Regions from separate parts of the Homo sapiens genome. Here region 2 is linked to region 1. Evidence: fine-mapped expression QTL. A gene starts in region 1. The other region holds a variant in brackets. All regions are shown on one strand. Distances are from middle to middle. Region 1 holds the start of MCF2L (MCF.2 cell line derived transforming sequence like). Region 2 overlaps LOC124903214 (a long non-coding RNA gene).

What was found. PIP is the estimated chance that this variant, and not a neighbour inherited with it, causes the effect.
Region 2: its variant is fine-mapped to the expression of MCF2L in whole blood (INTERVAL, PIP 0.98).

The regions. Positions count from the first base shown.
Region 1 is chr13:112,967,384-112,970,298 of GRCh38, forward strand. MCF2L (MCF.2 cell line derived transforming sequence like) reads left to right here and starts at 1,831. Exons shown (of 30, transcript NM_001112732.3): 1 at 1,831-2,075. The coding sequence starts at 1,997. MCF2L-AS1 (MCF2L antisense RNA 1) reads right to left here and starts at 1,255. Exons shown (of 1, transcript NR_034002.1): 1 at 101-1,255. RefSeq lists an enhancer at 986-1,505 and a silencer at 1,707-1,766.
Region 2 is chr13:112,926,215-112,929,129 of GRCh38, forward strand. LOC124903214 (a long non-coding RNA gene) reads right to left here. Exons shown (of 2, transcript XR_007063877.1): 2 at 1-2,915. It also overlaps a transcript of MCF2L not described here. Among named protein-coding and RNA genes, the nearest start is that of MCF2L-AS1, 41 kb to the right of the region's middle. The variant T/C (reference allele first, on the strand shown) is at 1,602.

The DNA.
Region 1 (2,915 bases):
TTCTCCTTTCACTGGTCTCCAAAGAGATTCTGTAGAACCAAGTGAAACTGCTGATACTCAATACGTTTCTCATGTTAAACAAAAACAAAAACAAAGCAGCCATTTCTTACAGATTTATTCAATACTTTCTATCTGGTTATTATGCCTCTTATTCTGTAATTATTTTTTATTATGAATTATTTATTTCCAGATCTGTCTGGCCTATAAGGCCTGTAGGCACTATAAGGGGGAGTACTGCGTCACCTTCATCTTTTTATCCCTTTGGCCTTGCTCCGTGCCTGAAAGCTCACCACACTGGAACGTCCAGGTGCACATGTGCCACTGGACACCGGGATGTTGCCGGATGCTCTTTTGGACGCTGGAATGCTGGTGCATTGTTGCCGGATGCTGGAATGGTGCACGCACGCTCTGTTGGACGCTGGAATGCTGGTGCATTGTTGCCGGATGCTGGAATGGTGCACGCATGCCCTGTTGGACTCTGGAATGCTGGTGCATTGTTGCCAAATGCCGGAATGGTACACGGATGCTCTGTTGGACGCTGGAATGCTGGTGCATTGTTGCCGGATGCTGGAATGGTGCACGCATGCTCTGTTGGACGCTGGAATGCTGGCGCATGTGCACATGTTATTGGCATGAGCTGTAGTTCAAACCTCAGCCATATGATGCTTGAATTCCCAAACCATTCGTGGAAATGTGTACTTCTTCCTGCTGGAATTCTCTCTCTCTCTCTCTCTCTTTTAACTGATTGGGGAGTGAGGTGGGGGGGGGGGTCTTGCTACATTGCCCAGGCTCAAACTTCTGGGCTCAAATGATCCTCCTGCTTCTGCCTCAGCTTCTGCCTCGGCCTCCGGAGTAGCTGGGACTACAGGCCTGAAATACTGTTTCTTTAAGGAAGGGCATGTTACCTATAATACCAAACCACAAAAGGATAGCTGCGGTTTTGGGCGAGGAGAGCTCAGAGAGTTTCTTGCATATGGCCCTGTGATGGCGGCCATGGCCCTGCATAGACACGAGCTGGAATCTGCAGGTGGCAGCCAGGACGCTGCGTGTGTCGAGTGCACAGTGTGGCTTGGTGCCAACCATGGCGAGGGTGGAGAGCCCCGTGCCTGCAGCGCGCGCTTCCCTCACTGGGTCCTGCGTCCTTGGGCAGGCGATGCCCCTGCGGGGAGGGGCTGGTCCATCCCCGGCCAGCCACGGACCCACGCATGGACCCAGCGACCCACGGACCTGCTTACCTGGGCGCGGCGCGGGTGGCATGCGGCCACACGGAAGGGGCGCGCTGGGCTGCTGCGGCCTCTGCAGCTTCTACACCTGCCACGGGGCGGCCGGAGGTAAAGGGAGGCGGCGGCCAGGCGCGGCCCCGCGGAGGCAGCTGCACTCGCTCGGTCCACTCGCGGCTTCGCGGCTGCCCGCAAACCAGGAGGGCGTGGAGACCCGGAACCGGGGGGAAGGGCGGGGGCACTTGTGCGGCACCCGCGGGGCTCCCAGGGGACCTCGGCGGTGACACGAATTTCTAGGTGACCTTGGCGGTGACACGAATTTCTAGGTGACCTGTGTGATACACTAGGTGACCTAGTGACACAGGTGACACTTCCAGGTGACCGCGGCGGTGACCCGCGGGGCTCCCAGGTGACCTCGTTGGTGAGCCCCGGGGCTCCCCGACGACCGCGGCGGTGACACGCGGGGCTCCCAGGTGACCCCGGCGGTGCACTCACAGGACTCCCAGGTGACCCGCGGTGGTGACACACCGGGGCGGGCGCGCGCCGCTTCCGCTTCCGCCGAGCCGCCCCCCGCCCCCCGCGGCGCAGCGCGCGCCCCCCTCCCGGTGGCGCGGAACCAATCCTGGGCAGGGAGGCGGCGGCTGGAGGCTGAAAGCGCTGCCGTGGCCCCCTCCCCGCCTCCGCCGCGCCCCCTCCGCACTCGCACGGCCCCACCCGCAGGCGCCCCCCGTGCGGAGGAAGCGGATCTGCCAGGATCATTTTTGTTGTGTCGGAGGATGAGGTTTTGGCTGAGGACTGAAGAGATGGCCTTGGAAGAAATGGTGCAGAGATTAAATGCGGTTTCCAAGCACACGGGTAGGAGGAGCTGCTGGCCGTCAGTGATCTGTGCTTAAGCTTGACATCATGGGCTGAAATGTGGGGAAATGCGTCTGATTTTTGTAAGCCGCCCTCGTGTTCCTTTCTAGCCGTGGTAGCTGTGACATGGGGGGCACTGGTTGGCAGCTGGTGTGTTTTCAGAGGCTGTCGGCGATCGTATGCTGCCCGGGATAGTCAAAATGACTGCACGTTGGTGACACTGGCTCTCTCAGGGTTGCTGGGTCTGCATGCGGAGCCATTTGTGTGTCTGAAGTCTGCCCATCAACCTGCCTGTCCGCAGCCCTCGCAATGGAGAATGCATTGCGAATGGAGAATGATCTGAGCCAAGGGCTTTCAGAGCTTGGGGTTTCAGAGCCAGGGGTAGGGATGGTGAAGCTACCTGGAAGCTCGTTTTGAGGATGAAAAAACCTGGACTAATCAGGTGGTTCTTTTCTTCATTAAATGCAATTTAAACCTAAGACAGATGTTTGAGACGGTATGGGTAAAGAGTGGACTGGACGTTCATTTTCAGTATTAATCGAAATATTACTTCAAATAAGCTTTGAAGAGTAGTTCAGATCGATTCTTTTAGGTGTAAGCAGAGACTGGGCTGACAGCTTGCATCTGGCCGTGGCTTTCAGGCGGTCGCATCTGAGTTCTCAGGCTGTGTTATGCAGAAGGGAGAGGCATCCTTAACTCGTTTTCCTTGAAATGAAGAGGAAATAATGATATATCATTAAAAGTAAGTTGCCAAGTGTTTTGCCTGATGTTGCCATATGTTATGTCATATATGCCATTACTAGTTGTCTAACTAGTACTTGCCTGGGAGATTAAAATGTC
Region 2 (2,915 bases), 41 kb before region 1:
TGGAGTACTGTACGGCCTAATCTATATACACAGCGGAGTGCACTATGGCCTGGTCTATATACACAGCGGAGTGCTGCATGGCCTGGTCTACGTACACAGCGGAGTGCAGTACGGCCTGGTCTACATACACAACGGAGTGCTGCACGGCCTGGTCTACATACACAGTGGAGTGCAGTACGGCCTGGTCTACATATACAGCGGAGTGCAGTACGGCCTGGTTTCTATACACAGCGGAGTACTGTACGGCCTGGTCTATATACACAGCGGAGTGCTGCACGGCCTGGTCTACATGCACAGCGGAGTACTGTACGGCCTGGTCTACATGCACAGGGGGGTGCTGTGCCACCTGGTCGATATGCACAGCAGAGTGCTGTGTGGCTTCATCTATATACACACAGTGGAGTGCTGTATAGCCTTGGAAAAGGATGAAACCGTATCATTTGTGACAACATATATGAACCCAAAGGACATTCTGTTAAGTGAAATAAGCCAGGCACAAAAAGACAAATCCTGCATGTTCTCACTTACATGTGTACTCGCAGAAAGGGGAACTCATAGGAGCAGAGTGGCGGTCGCCTGGGGCAGGGGGCGGGGTGGGATGTGCTGGGAAGATGTTGGTCAGGGATTATTGTACAGTATGGTGACTATAATGAATTTCTGAAATTGCTAAGAGTAGATTTAAGTGTTCCCACCACTAAGAAATAAGCATATGAGTTAAGACATGTGCTAATTAGCTCGATTTAGCCTTTCCACTGTGCATACATACTTCAGACCATCATGTAGTGTGCTATAAATACAGTTTTTGTCAATTTAAAAGAAAAAAGATGCTAAATCACACTTACAGAGAAATATGAATTAAAAGCACACTGGCATACTGCCTCTTGCTAATCAGAAGTTTAGCTGGAGAAGTGGGGAGGGCTGAACTCTCCCGTGGCATGGCTGCGGCAAATGGCATGACCTCATCATGTGAACTTGGCAGTATCTAGCGAGGTCATAGACACGTTTGCCCTTTGACCAGCAATTCCACTTCTAGGAATCTGTCCCAAAAGTACTCTGGCAGAAATAGAGTTATTTGCAATTTTTTAATAGTCTTCTAGTCTTGATGTTGAACTGGAAGCATCTGTATAAGTCCAGTGTCTTTTATCGTAAAATACATGGTTTCTAGACCTGTCCATGGAAAAAACTGAACACAGAGAGCCCAGTTGTGGTCTCCTCATGTCATTCCCACTGAGAAGATCTGGAGGTCTTTGGATAAATGACCGGGTCTGGGGAAAAATGTTTCCAACGAGCCTACAACATCTTGTTCTACCAGCAAGTGCAAGACTAAAAGGTAATGAATGACTCTTTATAAAACATCAACACAATACAGTCAATTCCACAGCCTCTGATCAGGAAGCTGCTGGCATCACAGAAGGCGAGTTGGACATTAGCACCTCCCTTGGTGAACTGCTCTTGCCAAAAAAGTAAAAGTAAAAGCTGAACCAGAATCTGACCAGGCACCTAGATGTAACTGTCAATTTATAGGAAATACCGGGGACAGAGGCACATGATAAACACCTCCAAGGGGGCGTAATCGACAAAACCCACCTCATGTGAAGCTC[T/C]ACATGACAAATGACCTGGTTTCTCCAACAACAACAACAAAAATACAAAGAAAAGAGAATCAGCAAGAAAACCTGTCTATCAAAAGAGACTCAGGAAATAGCAGCCAATTGCAGGCTATGGACTGGATAAGATTTTGATCCTAGTTCAAACAAAATGTGTCTAGAAAACACAGAGAAAAATAACAGGAGAAACGTTAACACTGGCTAGATATTTAATTCTGAATAATTATTAATTGTATTGTGGCTGTGGAATTGATTGTATTGTGTTTATGTGTATAAAAAGTCATTACCTTTTAGGAATGTTTACTGAACTCTGCACGTGTTAACAGTTCTGTGCTGTCTGGGGTTTGCCTTGGATTGATGGTGGTGGGCAGCCGTTGCTGGGGATGCGGGTGAAACGCGGCCGGCCGTGCACCAACGTTGTTGCAGTCATTGCACCGTTTCTGATGTTTTTGCACTCGTTTGAAATTTCTATGATTTAAAGAAAACTTTTTATAATGTAAGTTGCATGGCAGACACTGCCCTACCTGCTTGATTCCTCAGTCTTCTAAGCACTGCTGTGGTCTTTTTTCCTCACAGTCATAATTAATTCTCTGCGTGAATGTGCCTCGTTATAATCCTTGGAAATGTGCACAGAGCCTATTTCTGTCTAGCCATGCCAGCCGTTACTGTACTTGCAAAGATGCTATCTAAATGGAAAGGAACTATGTCCATATCTTTCAAATAAATATGGTGCTTTTTTCCTCCCTTCACCCCCAAAAAAGTCATGATGACTGTCTACTCCTAGTATTTGTTTTATAGGAGCATTGGCATCGCTAGTGTCTGTGAATAGCTGGAGTGTGCACTCTGAAACTTTACTTTGCCTGTTGTATGGGACACACACAGGACTAAGAGACACATGTAAAACGCATGTGGTCTTGGCACGGGGAAAGGACCATATGTTTTTTAAAAACAGTCTCCAGCAGCTCTGACGCTTCCCTGCAGGGGAGAGGGATGTGCGTGCTCCTCAGACCCTCCTTGAGAGGACTTCCCGGCCGAGGGCCTTTTCTGGCCACATACATGGATGGAGGTCTGCGCCTCCTCCCAGCTGACAGTCTGTGGCATCTGCAGTGGGGCTGTCTGTGGCTGGCACCTGTGGACACAGAACCAGGAGACACAAGCCAGCCTTTACTGGAGCATGTTAGAGCCAGGACGTGCCTCTCACCTGAGCTACTCAGCGTGCAGATGACAAACAGAGGTTCAGAGTCCTCCTGGCTGTGTCTTCTGGGGCCTCCCAGCGGGGAGGGAGTGGCACTCGGTGTTTCCACATCCCTT